Linked DNA regions of Homo sapiens: region 2 is linked to region 1. Evidence: fine-mapped QTL for protein levels in blood plasma. A gene starts in region 1. The other region holds a variant in brackets. All regions are shown on one strand. Distances are from middle to middle.

Region 1 (8,329 bases):
ATTGTAATGGTTGTTGCTTTTTGTTGTTGCTGTTGTTTTTTTTTTTAGAGACAGTGTCTCCCTCTTAAAATCCTATGTATTATTTCAAACTCTATGTACTCTTGCTGTGCGAACCAACAAGCTTGGTGGACTGGTTTTCAATGACAAGCTGGAGAGAGAGGGAGAGAGCCCACTTTACTTAGGATACTAGGCTCTCAGTGACCCGTGCCCTTCTGACGTTTGCAGTCTCACTCACTGCTGCCTCCGTACATACTCCCCACAGGAAACCATATATACACCTTTGTGTTGGTGTCACCTCTGCATTCACCTTCATGATTCTGTGTTTGGCTTTTCAGGTGAGGTCCTGACATGCCACTTCTTTTATTTATTATTCTTTTTTCTTATTTTGCTTATGAACCTAATGTTAAGAACATTATGAACCTAAGAGTATGAACATATTGACATGCTATGATGGAGGCATTTCTCTGAACTTTGTGCTGTGTGGCTGGCATTAAAGAATCAGTGAGTGTGGCTGGGCACGGTGGCTCACACTTGTAATCAGCACTTTGGTAGGCTGAGTCAGGCGGATCACTTGAGGCCAGGAGTTTGAGACCAGCCTGACCAACATGGTGAAACCCTGTCTACTAAAAATACAAAAAAAAATTAGCTGGGCATGGTGGCACACACCTGTAACCCCAGCTACTCAGGAAGCTGAGGCAGGAGAATCCCTTGAACCCGGGAGGCGGAAGTTGCAGTGACCCAAGATCACACCACTGCACTCCAGCCTGGGCGACAGAGAGACTGTCAAAAAAATAAATAAATAAATAAAAGTGAGTGAGTGAACCTAGCAGGCATCTCACCATCCCTTCCCTTTACTGGCCTCCTCTAATCATGGTGTATGTAGCCATTCCCTAAATAGGCCATATTCTGAGTCTTTGCACATTCTGTTTCCTCTGCAATGAACACCTCCTTTTCTTTTCTACCAGTGAAGGCTTTAAGTGTCACCTCCTCTGTGACCACCATCTTTACTATGTCCTTCCTATGTGTCTGTCATGTCAGCCTCCCCCACTGGCTGTGGGCTCCTTAGAGGCAAGGACCTACAGCTTCAGAATCCTTGTTGGGGGCTGGTGCCTGGTTCACAGTGGGTGTTAAATGAACAAACAGTGCGTGAATGAGTTTGTCAGCCAGGGGCCTGAGTGAGCTTGCTGGGATGGGGTCTCTGGCTCCACGATAGAGTCCGGGAGGAGCATGGGATGGGAAAGCGGGGAGTAGGGGGTGTCCAGGATCTGGTACCTCCAGAAAGGCGGCCAACACGGCCAGGCCTCCCGGGCGCCCCAAGGCCTCGTCAACTCTGGCAAAGGCGGTGCTGAGGTGAACCACGTGGATCTGAAAAGGACACGAGGGTAGGAGAGGGCCACGTCTCTGGCCCCGCTCCGCCCCGCTCCTTTGCCCCTTCTCGGCCAGCTCCGCGCTCACCTCGGCAGGGAAACGGTGGCCTTCCACAGTGTGCTCCGAGCCCGGACGACCTGCAGCCCCCCAGTGCAGATGCAGCTGCAGAGCCCGGTACTCCCGCCCGGGACCCAGAGCCATCTCTAGCCCAGGAGGCAGGGTCAGTTGCACTGCGTAGGGAGAGGCAAGTGAGCCGGCCCCGCCCGGTAGGGCCAGCCCAACCCCCGGGCAGGCACTGCCGCGACGGTTCCCTTCCCTGCGCCCCGCCCCATCCCCAAGTCTCGGCGGGGAGACCCCCTCACCACTGTGGCCATTGTTGCGCAGGCGCAGTTCTGGGAGCGGCGGGAGCTGGAAGCCCAGGAGTTCCAGGGGGCGCAGGGCCGGGCAGAAGGCGGCGAGCTGGGGGCGGATATCCACCGGGGACTGGAAGCGGCCCGCGCAGGCTGGGGACACCCGGGGCCAGGGCGGGTCGCCTGGGGTGGGAGAGTATAGTGAGGAAGTCTGACGCCTAGGTCAGGAACTTAGGGAACCCGGGTAGAAAAGGTGAGGGGGTGGGACGGTGGGCGGCGGGTGGGACGCCCGGGACCAGTGTTCAGGGACGGCTGTAGGGGAGATCCACAGAGCTGGGTTCCCAGATTGGGTCTGTGCAGCGGGTGGGTGTCTCACCTCCATAGCGCCAATGACTCTGGTCATCCCCTGTATAAATGAAAAGGATGAACCGCTCAAGCTTAGAGCCCCAATCCCTTCCTGGCGACCAAAACGATGTCACAAACGCAGATGCCTTACAGGAGCATTACGGGTAACAAATGCCTTAAGCGGGCCAGGTGCAAAGCACAGGAGACCGCACCCAAACTCAACACCGCAGCTGGGTGGGCCAAACAGCAATCCTACCAGCTTGCAATCATTGTCTTAGGGTCTGTAAAAGTGAGTGGCTGCTTCAGGCCAGGCGCTGTGGCTCACGCCTATAATCCCAGCACTTTGGGAGGCCAGGGTGGTTGGATCACCTGAGATCAGGAGTTCGAGACCAGCCTGACCAACATGGCGAAACCCCGTCTCTACTAAAAATACAAAAATTAGCCGGGCGTGGTGGCGCATGCCTGTAATCGCAGCTACTTGGCTAGAGGCTGAGGCAGGAGAATCACTTGAACCCGGGAGGTGGAGGTTGCAGTGAGCCGAGATCGCGCCATTGCACTCCAGCCTGGGCAACAAAAGTGAAAGTTTGTCTCAAAAAAAAAAAAAAAAAAAGTGAGTGGGCACTTCAGTCCTGAGTCCCAAATGAGTGAGTACACCATCTTTCCTTTCTCCCTTCTTTCTTCTCCCCACTCATCCCTCTGCCTTGTATGGTCTCCAACCCCTTTCCCCAAATTCCTGGCTTGGGAGTCAAGAAGCCACGTTTCTCTACCTGCTGTGTCCCTTCTTCCTAGGTCTCAATTTCCTCATTGTAGCCTAAGATGAGATGACTTCTACCAGCTCTTCTTGCTTGTCTCTGGTACCCACTTCACCTCCCAAGCTTTCCTTTTCTCTTCCCCTCAAACTCTCTGACTCTCCTTCTCCACCTATTTTTTTCCTCTGTCTGCACATTTTTTCTCTCATCTGCAGTTCTCATCCCTTTCTCTTCTCCAGCCTCCCCCTTCTCTCCCATCTCATCCAGCTCACCTCTCTCCTTTTGCACCCTTTTTATTTTCTCTCCACATCTGTCCCTTTCTACCTCCGAGAGTGGGGATGGGGATATTGGTATGGGACCTCTGGAAGGGCTTCTGTGGGGAGTACAGTCTCCCCTCCTTCCCTGAGTGAACAGAGCCTAGGCTGGGGTATGGGAGGGGAGTCATGAACCTCCTGGAACCTGGATTTGGAGATTGATGACCACTTACCTTCTTTGTCCCTGTGGGCATTATTCTGGGGTTCTTGAGGATCTCCAGGAGCCTCAACAGTAGGTAGATCCTCTAACTTCAGGGAGCCCTCTTCTTCTGATTTAGGCTTAACTTCAGGTAGATCCTCCTCTCCAGGTAGATCCTCCTCTCCAGGTAGATCCTCCTCTCCGGGTGGATCCTCCTCTCTGGGTGAATCCTCTTCACTGGGCAGATCCTCCTCGCCCAGTGGGTCATCTTCCCCAGAAGAGCCTCCTCCCAAGGGGGAATCCTCCTGCATCCGGGGCAACCTCTGGGGATGGACAGGCACCAGAAGCAGCAGTGACAGCAGCAGTTGCACAGTGAGGCCTGGAGCAGGGGCCGGGATCAACAGAGGGAGCCAGGGGCTGGGGCACAGGGGAGCCATGCGGCTGACTGTGGGGTGTCCCAGCACACGGTGTGTACGGGCTGTACGTGCATTGGAAACGAGAGCTGGGTGGGGGAGGAGCAAGCCTGGAGGGGAGCAGGCTGACTCACAGAGCGCCCTTTTGCAGAGATGGAGCCAAAGTCTCACAGGTTTGTCTGGCCCTGTGCCCTCTCCCCCATACCAAAGCTAGGATGGGGGTGGAGTGAGGGGCAGGTGTGTGCACAGGCAGAAGGTTATCGGGGCCATGGACTCAGCTTGGAACCCAAGGCACCACCTGGCACTATGCAGGCTCTCCCTGGCACCACCCAGCTGCTTGCCAGCCAGCCTCAGCTAACCCTGGCCTGCTTCCCAGCTCCAGGCACAGAAGGGGAAAGGCAGGGGAGCTGGGGCCCCCATGTCCTCTGGCTGAGAGGGAAAGCAGCTCATGTATACATCCCTGACTCCACCAGGAAGCAGGTAAAGAGGTAGGGCAGGCTGCTAGGGGAGCCCGAGGGTGAGTTAAGTAATGGGTATGTGGGAGACAAACTTGAGCTTGAATGAAAAGCAAGTGTATGTGTCAGAGGGGCTCTGATAGGTTTAACCTATATTTATTTTTCAACACATTACTCTCCTGCTCAAAAGCCTTCATTGGCTCCCCACTGCCTGCCACGATATGCACATTGTGTACTTCTGACTTCCAACTTCCTTCAAAACCTTGCCCAAGAGACCTTTCCATCTTGTCTCCTACTACTCTCCCTCATACTCTAGCCAAATTAAACTATTATTTTTTTCTCCAAACCTTTTACCACCTTTGTTAATCTAGTTCTTGCTCCCTGAAATGCTATTTACTATTGCATTCAACAAATATTTATTTAGTACTACCATAGGTCCAGCACTGGGCTATGGACTAGGGACATGGAAATGAATAAGACACGGTCCCTCATTTTGGGAGGCTGAGGTGGGTGGATTGCTTGAGTCCAGGAGTTCGAGACCAGCCCGGGCAACATGGCCAAACCCTGTCTCTACTAGAAATACAAAAAAATTAGCCAGGTGTAATGGCATGTGCCTGTAGTCCCAGCTACTCAGGAGGCTGAAATGGGATGATGGTTTGAGCCGAGGCGGTTGAGGCTGCAGTGAGCTGAGACTGTACCATTGCACTCTGGCCTGGGTGACAGAGCAAGACCCTGTCTCAAAAAAGAAAAACAAAAACAAAAACAAAAAACGCTACCTGCCCTGAGCAGCTCACAATCTAGTGAGTGAGGGCAAACCCTGTCAATATCATCATATTGAGGGAAGAGAGATGAATTCTGCTTTAGAAGATAATATAGAAGTAGGCAAATTTGATCATGTCCTTGAAGAAATACCAGTTCCATTGGTAAAAACAATAGGGAGAATGATATTCTGGGCAAAGGGAAGGCATAAAATATTATGAGCAGGAGAGTGACAGAATCCAGTTCTCATACTAGGTCACGTTGAGGGCTTGAGGGCTAGTATGGAGCACAGATTGCAGGGGAAGACTGGGTGCAAGGAGATGGGGCAGAAGAGTGTGAGGACACCAAGAATGGGCTTAGGCCTCCCAGTTTTTTTCTTTTCTTTTCTTTTTCTTTTCTTTTCTTTCTTTTTTTTTTTTTTTGAGACAGAGTCGCACTCTGCTACCCAGGCTGGAGTGAAGTGGCGCGATCTCGGCCCACTGCAATCTCCACCTCCCAGGTTCAAGCGATTCTCTTGCCTCAGCCTCCTGGGTAGCTGGGACTACAGGCACCTGCCACCACGCCCAGCTAATTTTTGTATTTTTGGTAGAGATTGGGGTTTTGCCATGTTGGCCAGGCTTGTCTTGAACTCCTGACCTCAGGTGATCTGCCCGCCTTGGCCTCCCAAAGTGCTGGGATTACAGGCTGGTTTTTTTTTCTAATTAATTATTTTTAAAATTTATTTTAGAGATGGGATCTCACTGTGTTGCCCAGGCTGGAGGGCGGTGGCTATTTACAGGTGCGACCCTGTTACTGATCAGCATTGAGTTTTGACCTGCTCCAATTTCCACCTGGGTCAGTTCAACCATCCTTAGGCAACCAGGTTGATGCAGAACTTAGTGCAGACACCTGACTGGTATACTACACTACAGCCCAGAAATCCTGGGATCAAGTGATCCTCCTGCCTCAGCCTCCCAAGTAGCTGGGACTACAGGCACACGCCATCACACCTGGCTAGTCTGCCCTTTTAACAATTTATTAAGCCTCCGCCAGTCCTTCAGGTGCTGTTCTAGGCCCTACAGATGCAGCATTGAATAGAGAATAGCTCTACTGTTTTGTAGCTCACATTCTAGTAAGGCTCCATTGGCTTAAACAAACTAAAAGAGAATAAGGCCATTTCAGGTCCATATCTAGGGCTAATATTCAGTAGGCACCCACCAATATGGTTGTGTAGGTTAATTAAATACATTAAGATATTTCTAATCCTGTTGGCATATAGCCATGGCCCCTAGCTCCAGGGTACCCCTGCTACCCTAGCTCTTCCTTAGGGACCCTCCAGACCTCCTGATCCCTTATCTAAAGAGGTATTCCCTGGCATAACAGAGTCCCCAGGAGCCCACTTGAGTGCCTCAGCCACCTTCAACTCTGATAGGTCAGTGCTTGTGCACTTGCTGCTGTGTCACAAATAGTTTTACTGGCCAGGTGCAGTGGCTCATGCCTCTAATACCAGCACTTTGGGAGGCCGAGGTGTGCAGATCACCTGAGGTCAGGAGTTCGAGACCAGCCTGGCCAACATGGTGAAACCCCGTCTCTACTAAAAATACAAAAATTAGCTGGGCATGGTGGCAGGCACCTGTAATCTCAGCTACTCAGGAGGCTGAGGCAGGAGAATCACTTGAACCTGGGAGGCAGAGGTTGCAGTGAGCCGAGATCGCGCCACTGCACTCCAGCCTGATCGACAGAGTGAGACTCTGTCTCAAAAACAAACAAACAGACAAAAATCGTCGCTAACATAGTGAAACCCCGTCTCTACTGAAAAAAAAAAAAAAAAAAAATTAGCCGGGCGTGGTGGCGGCCGCCTGTAGTCCCAGCTACTCAGGAGGCTGAGGCAGGAGAATGGCGTGAACCCAGGAGGCAAAGCTTGTAGTAAGCCAAGATCGCGCCACTGCACTCCAGCCTGGGCGACAAAGCGAGACTGTTTCAAAAAAAAAAAAAAATTTTACTGTCCTCCCTGTCTAATCTCTTCTGTTCTTTGAAACTCAGATGAAAGGCCACCTCCTTCAGGAAACTCCTTAACCAACCCTCTACCACTAGTCTGGAAAAGATCCCTGGCATCTTTGAGCCAACCCAGTTCTTTGCCTGCCCTCAATAATAACTTTGTCCACCGTCTAACTCATATAAGGGTGATAACTCATTTTATCTGCTCTAACGGCCTTCAGCTCCATAAGGGCAGGGTCCGTACTTGATTGAGTCAGTCTTTTATTCAACAGCCATTATTGAGCATTTTCTTTTTGCAGATTACCTTGCCAGATGCTTGAGAAATACCAAATTGACTAAGATATATTCTCTGCCCTCAAGGAGCTCATTGTCAATGACCTGTGCATGTCCACAACTATCCCATAAACATGACATAACTTTTTACATTATTATTATTTTTGAGACAAGGTCTTACTCTGTCACCCAGACTGGAGTACAGTGGCGTCATAGCTCACTGCAGGCTTGATCTCCTAGGCTCAAGTGATCCCCCTGCCTCAGCCTCCTGAGTAGCTAGGACCACAGGCACAAGCCACCACCCCTGGCTAATTTTTTTATTTGTTTTGTAGAGATGGGGTTTCGCTATATTGCCCAGGTTGGTCTTGAACTCTTGACCTCAAGTGATCCTCTGACCTCAAGTGATCCTCCAACCTCAGCCTCCAAAAGAGTTGGGATTATAGGCGTGAGCCACCATGCCTGGCCCAACACCACATTTTTGTGGCACTCCAAATCATCTGTGTTGTCGGATGACTGTCATATTGTACAACAAAATATATATGACTGAATAACAGCTGTCCTCCAAATGGTCAACCTCAGATGTAGTCAGCCTAAGATTCTAGGGTGCCATTTCTGGAGCCAAATTCAGAGCTCTCCATGGCAGTGTGGTCCAGGGTACACTCTGGATGGCCAGCTGATTGTCTTGGTCAGCTCTGTCATTAGCTTGGAACTTGCTTGGCCCCTGACATATGGAAGTACATGGTAATATCTGAATTGGATGGGCCTATACAAGACAGAATGTGGTAACGACTAATCCAGCTCTCTGTTACAGCTCACTCATTTTTCAAATGCGATTCCCTATGGCTCTGTTTCTCTGTCTCTCTCGTCTCTGGTCTGAGTGGAGAATGTGGACTCTGACCCTGGATCATGCTGGGAGTCTGCCAAACCCTCAAACAGGTTTGAGTTATTGTTTCCTGAGTCTCCCCGGGTTGGGACAGAGTATACTCAGGACTGACTGACCAGGGCACCCCACACCTGGATCAGGACCTCTCTGTGGTTATTATAGGCCAAGTGTTTGCTCATGAGGGTTTGTGTTTTCAAACACTGAGGGGTCATGTTACTAAAACATGTCTCTGCCTATCCCAGCATGGCAGAGGAGGAAACTATTCACTGGTGGGGTAGAAGGGAAAATGCTCCCTCTCCCAAGC
Region 2 (8,329 bases), 510 kb after region 1:
AACAAATGTTTAAAAACCATCTACAGGCTGGACGTGGTGGCTCACGCCTGTAATCCCAGCACTCTGGGGGGCCGAGGAGGGCAGATCACAAGGTCAGGAGTTCAACACCAGCCTGGCCAACATAGTGAAACCCCCTTCTCTACTAAAAATACAAAAAAAAAAAAAAAAAAAAATTAGCCAGGCATGGTGGCAGGCACCTGTAATCCCAGCTACTCAAGAGGCTGAGGCAGGATAATTGCTTGAACCCAGGAGGCAGAGGTTGCAGTGAGCAGAGAGGGCGCCACTGCACTCCAGCCTGAGCAACAGTGTGAGACTCCATCTCAAAAAAAAAAAAAAAAAAACCTACAAAGATGTTCATTGTAGCACTGTTTGTAATAGTGAAAAGAAAAATATCCTGAATATCATCAATATAAAACTGTTTAAATTATGTATGCTTATATAACAGAATACTCTGCAGCCATTCAAAAGAATGGTATAGACCAGGGTGTCCAACCTTTTGGCTACCCTGGGCCACAGTGGAAGAAGAATTATCTCGGGCCATGCATAAAATACATTAACACTGGCCAGGCGCTCATGCCTGTAATCTCAGCACTTTGCAAGGCCAAGGCAGGCGGATCATGAAGTAAGGTGATCGAGACCATCCTGGCTAACAAGGTGAAACCCTGTCTCTACTAAAAATACAAAAAATTAGCCAGGCGTGGTGATGGGCGCCTGTAATCCCAGCTACTTGGGAGGCTGACAGGAGAATCGCTTGAACCCAGGAGGCAGGGGTTGCAGTGAGCTGAGATCGCGCCACTGCACTCCAGCCTGGGCGACACAGCGAGACTGTCTCAAAAAATAAAAATAAAATAAAAAAAATACACTAACACTAATGATAGCTGACAAATCTCATAATGTTTTAAGAAAGTTTACAAATTTGTGTTGGGCCACATTCAAAGCCGTCTTGGGCCACATGCAGCTCACATGCCACAGGCTGGACAAGCTTGGTTTAGACTCAGATGACCTGACAGGAAAATAGATCATTGAGGTTAAAAAACAAAAAAAGCTGAAGAATGCTATGTACATTCAACTGCAGAACCTATATACTCATCTGCAATGAAAATTTCCAGAAGGATAGGTAAGAGACAGTAAACAGTAGTTACCTCTGGGAAGTAAGAATACCGAATGGGGACAAGAGAACTTTTCCTTCTACTTTACACTCTAAACTGTTTCAACTTCTTATCTGTATATTTATCACCTTATAATAAAAACAAAATGAAAACAATGAATTAAAAAGTTAACAATAGTTGGGTGTGGTGGTGTGTTCCTTGTAGTCCCAGCTACTCGTGATGCTGAGAAAAGACAGTCACTTGAGCCCAGGAGTTCAAATCCAGCCTAGGCAACATAGTGAGATCCCATCTTTAAAAAAAAAATTAAATTTAAAAAAAAAGTTAGCAATGGTATTGGCAGGTGGTAGGCCCATGGAAATTTTTTTCTTTTTTTGTACTTTTCTGCATTTTTTAAATTTTCTATAATTAGCAATGTATTACCATACACATATTTTTTTTGAGACAGGGTCTCACTTCGTCACCCAAGCTGGAGTACAGTGGCATGATCTTGGCTCACTGCAACCTTGCCTCCTGGGTTCAAGCAATTCTCATGCCTCAGCCTCCCAAGTAGCTAGGATTACAGGTGAGCACCACCACACCTGGCTAATTTTTGTATTTTTAGTAGAGATGGGGTTTCACCACGTTGGCCAGGCTGGTCTCAAACTCATGTCCTCAAGTGATCCACCTGTCTCAGCCTTCCAAAGTGCTGGGATTACAGGCAAGAGCCACCACGACTGGCCTGCATTTATTACTTTTGGGGGAAAAAAATCCATAGTTAAATTATCTAACTATGTTATAAACACTGGGAATAACTATGTTATAAACACTGGGAATTACAGAGAAATATTATGGAAAGGTCTGATTCTAAAAATGCTTATAATTGCTTGGAGAAACTTGGTCGTGAATACCAAGACAATAAAAGTCAAACAAAATCCTTAATTTAGTTTACTGCAGTTGTTCATGTGGCACTGGTCCCTATGGAAGCCCAAAAAAAGTATCCGTATTATAAGTAAAGCTGTGCCAAAACATGTTAAAGACTTATATTTCTTTATACTTATGGAAATATTTAAAGAAAGACTAAGTGAATTCTATAAAAGAGTGGTTTCTTAAAAATTCAAGTCTAGGCCGGGCGCAGTGGCTCACGCCTGTAATCCCAGCACTTTGGGAGGCCGAGGTGGGCAGATCACGAGGTCAGGAGTTTGAGACCAGCCTGGCCAACATGGTGAAACCCCGTCTCTACTAAAAATACAAAAAATTAGCCAGGCATGGTGGCAGGCGCCTGTAATCCCAGCTACCCCAGAGGCTAAGGCAGGAGAATCGCTTGAACCTGGGAGGCAGAAGTTGCAGTGAGCTGAGATCATGCCACTGCACTCCAGCCTGGGCAACAGAGACTCCATCTCAAAAAATTAAAAAAAAAAAAAAAAAAAAATTCAAGTCAATCACCCGCTGAATGGTCAATATCCCCTTTAGAATCCTTACCACTCATTCAATTTCTGTTTAGTGTCAAAAAATCTACATAGCCCATTCCATTTGTTCTGAACAACCCAACTGTTCTTCTTTATGTTAAGCTAAAATCTAATTTCCTGTCATTTTCAACCACTGATCCACACTTGTCCCAGTTCTGTCCTCTGGAATGACAACAAAAAAGGTGACATAACTTCTACAAGACAGTTTTTTAAACAGTCTTCATGTACTATCGTGATCCTCTTCCTCTTAAATCTTCTACAACTAAATTTCCCATATTCTTCAAATGGTTCGGTTCCTACATGTTTCATTATTCTAATCACTCCCCTCTTAAGATAACCTAGCTTCTCAATATGCTTCTTAGAAGGAAATACCACAGCTGAACACAAAATTCCAGATCTGATCTGACCAGTGCAATTACTTCCTTTGTCTGGGTCACCATAAGCACCACAATACAAGACCAGTTGCAGGCAGCATATGATTCATTTCCAAACTAGTGGCACTGTTCAGACCACAAGTGCTCCGAGGATTTAAAGGAAAAAGAGATCACTGTGGACTGGGGACCTGAAGAAGTTTTCAACAACAAAAAAAGTAGACTGTT[A/G]GCTGGGAAAGTAAGAATACATTTTAGATAGGCAGAAAATATGGAACGAGTATTTCAGGGGGCACAAGTGCAGAACAGAGCAGAGGCAGGAATAAACAAAGTTAGTGCTAGAGCAAAGTCTGCATAAGGATAGGCAAGAATAGAAGGCCACAAGTCTGGAGTCAGAGTATTGAGAGCCTTAAACCTGCAGGCAATAAGGCATGATTAAAGGGCAAGACAAAATAACTGACTTCTTGAATGAAATGTTTAGGAATGATTAATTCAATACCAGTTTGCCAATTTCTACATCAAGTTAACTACTTTTTGAACTCTGCATAGGAAGTTTCTAATTGATTCTACTCCAAGATGAATTGAAATTGAGTTGTAATAAATATCACTATATAGACTGCTTTCAGAATACAACATTCCTACTGCCAAAATACAACGCAAGGAATGTCATTTTAGAAAGATGTATTTTGTGCTGGGTGCAGTGGATTATGCCTCTAATCCCAGCACTTTGGAAGGCCAAGGCAGATGGATCACTTGAGGTCAGAAGTTCAAGACCAGCCTAGCCAACACAGTGAAACTCTGTCTCTACAAAAAATACAAAAATTAGCCGGGCCTGGTGGTTCACTCCTGTAATTCCAGCTGCTCGGGAGGCTGAGGCATGAGAATCACTTGAACCCAGGAGGTGGAGGTTGCAGTGAGCCAAGATCGCAGCACTGCACTCCAGCCTGGGTGACAGAATGAGACTCTGTCTCAAAAAAAGAAAAAGAAATAAAAATAAAGATGTATTTCAATTCATTTCTGTAAGTTTTCCCAAAATGAATACTTTGCCATTCAATATGAATATCTGCATATAAGGTACCTGTTTGTTTCAGTATTTAAAATCTTCTAGATCTCTATTCAAAAAGACAATGGCCTGCTGATCTCGTTTCTCCAGATTCAAAAAAGAAGAAACTTCACTAAAGTAACATTAAAAAGGAAAGAAGTTAGCTAAATAGCAGAATTTCTAGACAATGAAACCTGCCTGCTATTAAAACAAATGAAAACACCAGTAGTTATATAAATTCAGTTAAATAGGAATTTCTGATTCACGAGTGCTCCTGCCTAAAGAGTCTTTCATAAGGACCAGCTCTGTAATACAGTGTGGCCGTAGAGAATTAAACTGTCCAAGAGACACAGCAAAGTCCAACCTCTCCCAAATCCTGCTACTCAGCAGCAGGGATCTAAAGGAATAAATAGATTCCCAGCTGCTGAGAGAAAATGTCTTACTAAAAGCAAAGCAAAATTCTCATTAATGAAAAATCAACCATGAAAGAAGAAAAACTGTATATCTCATAATCCCGGGAAATGGCCAAATCCATTTTGGTTAATGCAGATTCAACAAAATAGTGGAAGAGAACAGAGCAAAGCAGTTTCATCTGCCAGTAGCTGGGGGAAACATCGTTATTGGAGAAATCACAAACAACAACAATGCTTCTAATCTGTAGAGCCAAAAGAAATATGAACTCTCCAGTAAAAGATATCAGGTAAAGGCTCTAGTTGATAAATGCTCTCTCATTCATAATCAAGACACATCAGATATGATAGGCTGTAACCTGAATTTCCCGAGATCAAATTCAATGGCTAATCCAAACCCTGTGTTTTCCTGATCAGATAATCTCTCTGAAGTCACAGTACTTGCATTCATTCAAAACCAGCATTAAGCTTCTACTACGTCAGACACCAGGAATACAAAAACTAATAAGAAACAGTCTCTACCCACATAGAACTTAGTTCGCGTACCATGCCTCATCTTAAACCCCAAAGCTCTTGCTTTAAGATATCTTCTTAGATGGGTCAAGTGTCCTCAGGGGAAAAGCAATAATGGCCCTTCACCTTGAGTTACTGTGAGGCAAGCTAAAATAAAAATAAAAATAAATCATACCTCTTATCCTCAAAAGCAGTCACCACATCCTCCCAAGTGGAACAGAAGAATAATCTTAGCCTATACTACCGGTTAGTGTTCAGGGAAGTGGCAGGGGACAAGACAAGCAATAGAAGGGATGTGACAGCTGTACCACTAACGCATTCAAAGTGTGATAAAAAGAACCTGCTACTAAGCATACTGTAGCGTTACGGTGCGAGGAGGAGGAAAAGAATGAGAGGCTGCCCACCATTCACAGGCACCAACCATCCGCGGTCTTCTAACTCGTCCACTCTCACTAGAGAACCCCAGTCACTGTTTAATAGGATCTGAGCCTGCAGTCCAACAACATTGTCACATGGCTACCAGAATGGAGAGCTAATCGTCCCTTGCAGGAGCTTGGGGGAAAACAAGAAAGTGGAAAGAACTCAAGTGATTGTTAAGTGATTGCCAAAATAATAGACCCCCAAAGCACGGACGGGATGTAAAGTTTGGGTGAGACGGTCACCGGACGTCCACTGGAAGGGTGCGGGGACCTCTACGCCGACACCCCGCCTCCCCGCCTCAGTCCGCGCACTCACCGCGCACGCAGAGCAGTGACATGGCCGAGGATCGGGCAAGCCTCTGCCGCGCCCCAGCCGCGCCGGACCGCTCCCTCTTTCCTCTCAGCAGGTGCCGCGACTGCTCTCGTTACCGGCCCCACGGGTCTGGCAGCTCCTCATGGTCCCGGTCGCAGGTAGCGTCCCGCCGCTGCCTCGGACCCGCCCCAAATCTCACCGTCTGAGCGAACTCCGGGTAGCGGTGAGTACCGGCCGGCAGGCTGGGGACTGGGCGCGGCACAGCGACGCCATCGCTGGGAGGTAGGAGCTGCCGGGACTCCCTCCCGTCATTCCACCCGGGATCCGCGCGAGCGCCTGGGCGGAGCCAACCCGTGGTGCCCCGCCCCCCAGCCAATTAACTCACGCCCAGTCCACCGACCCCGCCCCCCCCCGCGAGCACGTAGGAGGCGGGGTCCCCTTCCTCCTTTCTTTCTTGCGATCCTGAAGGAAGCTCCGCCCACTAATCAGGCTTACTGCAGGGAGCAAGGGGTTGACCCTCAGTTGTGTGACGCGAGAATGGAAGCCCTCTGTTCCTCCTGCATGAGCGGGGCTTCCACCCAAGAACAGATTCTTTTCATTGAAGGATTTCCACTGGACTTTCTTAGAGTCTAGCGGTCATAGCTGACAGCCTGTAATTTTAAGTTAACGAAGTCGCACCGCACAGCAAAGTTAAGTTTTGTTTAGCAACTAGGGCAAAAGACAAAACTGAGTGGGCATAAAGTATGTCTGGAGACCTCAGTTCTTATCTAGACCGTTTTTTATGCTCATCATTGTATCTCCAATGTCTGGAATAGTGCCTAGTGTATGGTAATCAGTCCGTAAATATTTACTGAATGAAGGATGGTAACCACGGAGGGATTGTGAGTGGAGATACCTCTGATCTTTGACAAATCTCCTATCCATGCTTGGTACCAACATGAGCTAACTCCATGGCTCAAACCAACAGGACAATTTGCTAAGGTCTAGGAGCACCCCCTCCAGAGAATCCCTGATCTCCCAAAATTTGGTCGAGATCTAAAGTTCATTTTGTTGTACAACTCCCTCTATTATTATTATTATTATTATTATTATTATTATTATTTTGGAGTTTTACTTGCTTCCAACAAGGAAGGCAAGTTTTCCTGCTTCCATGACGAGGGAAGGCAGGTAACTCTTTTATGGAGTTTGAGCTCACTTCCAACAGGGAAGATGAGGGGTTTTTTTCCTACTTCTGGGATGGTAGACAGCCGTTTTCAGCCTGAGACGCACCCCTAGGTAAGTAGCTGAATAGGGATTTTTGTCTTGGCTAAAGTTAACAACCAGCTGGTCTTAATTTCTGCTTACCATTAGAGTGCTCAGTGATCATATTGTTGGGTTTTTTTTTATTTTGTTTGTCTTTTTCCCATTGACCAACTCTACTTCACTTGGTCAAATCCAAGTGAGAATTCCAAATTATGGGTAACAAGGCCTATCTAATTTGAGTAAAATTCCTCACAGCTGCAAAAGAAAAAACAAACAGAAAACAAAAAACCATGTATTTGGTTTCTGTGTTTGCTTCCTGGTCTTAAAAATTAAACTGTTCTTAGGCCGGGCGCGGTGGCTCACACCTGTAATCCTAGCACTTTGGGAGGCCGAGGCGGGCGGATCACGAGGTCAGGAGTTCAAGGCCAGCCTGGCCAACATAGTGAAACCCTGTCTCTACTGAAAATACAAAAAAAATTAGCCGGGCATGGTGGCGGGTGCCTGTAATCCCAGCTACTCGGGAGGCTGAGGCAGGAGAATTGCTTGAACCAGGAGGCGCAGGTTGCAGTGAGTGGAGATCGAGCCATTGCACTCCAGCCTGAGCTACAGTGTGAGACTCTGTCTCAAATTAAAAAAAAAAAAAAAAAAAATTCAATTGTTCTTTTGTTTACTTTTCTTCCACCCTATACCTCCTTCACCCTTTGCCATCTGCATTACCAAAAAATCGAGAGAAGGCTTCTAATGACTTGAACCTCTTTAAAGAATTTAGGCCGGGCGCCATGGTTCACGCCTGTAATCCCAGCACTTTGGGAGGCCGAGGTGGGCGGATCACGAGGTCAGGAGTTCGAGACTCAGCCTCGCCAACATGATGAAACCCTGTCTCGACTAAAGATACAAAAAAAGTTAGCCAGGCATGGTGGCACGTGCCTGTAATCCCAGCTACTCAGGAGGCAGAGGCAGGAGAATCACTTGAACCTGGGAGGCGGAGGTTGCAGTGAGCTGAGATCGTGCCATTGCACTCCAGCCTGGGTGACAGGGCAAGACTCTATCTCAAAAAAAAAAAAAGAATTTAGAACAAAGGTGCCACTCACCCCCTTTTGGGGTGTTCTCTTGGCTTTGTGGGATTTCAAGAGTCATGGGCAGATTCTTCTTAGGTCTAAAGCTCTGTTTTCCTGTATTGCATGACCTGACCTTTTTGGCTTTGGGTGCCAGAGATGACCTTGCACTGTGAGAGGATTTGACCTTGGTGTGTATATTGTTGGAAAAGAGCTACAAAGTTACGGGTGGCTGAGCACAGTTTATAGGAAGTGGTTTTGGCTGTTTCCTTTTTTTTTTTTTTTTTTTTTTTTAATTTTCTCTCCTAGGAAGTCGTTGTTTAAGAATCCTAATTCTAGGCCAGGTGCGGTGGTTCACACCTGTAATCCCAGCACTTTGGGAGGCTGAGGCGGGCGGACCACTTGACCCCACA

Which allele goes with the higher level. Positions count from the first base shown, and alleles are read on the strand shown. Strength reflects both the effect of a copy and how common the allele is.
With allele G in place of A in region 2, the plasma level of the protein whose gene starts at base 3,734 in region 1 is lower (moderate association).

The links. A credible set is the group of variants that fine-mapping cannot tell apart. PIP is the chance, under the fine-mapping model, that this variant and not a neighbour inherited with it causes the effect. Protein levels are from antibody-based Olink assays in UK Biobank. Linkage for the fine-mapping came from a reference panel and not from the study's own genotypes, which makes the PIPs less certain.
Region 2: its variant is the best candidate, but not a certain one, in a credible set for the plasma level of the CA9 protein (UK Biobank, PIP 0.74).

What each region holds. Positions count from the first base shown.
Region 1 is chr9:35,669,333-35,677,661 of GRCh38, reverse strand. It overlaps CA9 (carbonic anhydrase 9), which reads right to left and starts at 3,734. Exons shown (of 11, transcript NM_001216.3): 1 at 3,300-3,734; 2 at 2,095-2,124; 3 at 1,731-1,901; 4 at 1,456-1,598; 5 at 1,273-1,365. The coding sequence starts at 3,702. It also overlaps the pseudogene RN7SL22P.
Region 2 is chr9:35,159,599-35,167,927 of GRCh38, reverse strand. It overlaps UNC13B (unc-13 homolog B), which reads right to left and starts at 5,919. Exons shown (of 40, transcript NM_001371189.2): 1 at 5,623-5,919. The coding sequence starts at 5,644. RefSeq lists a silencer at 5,924-6,053. The variant A/G (reference allele first, on the strand shown) is at 3,154.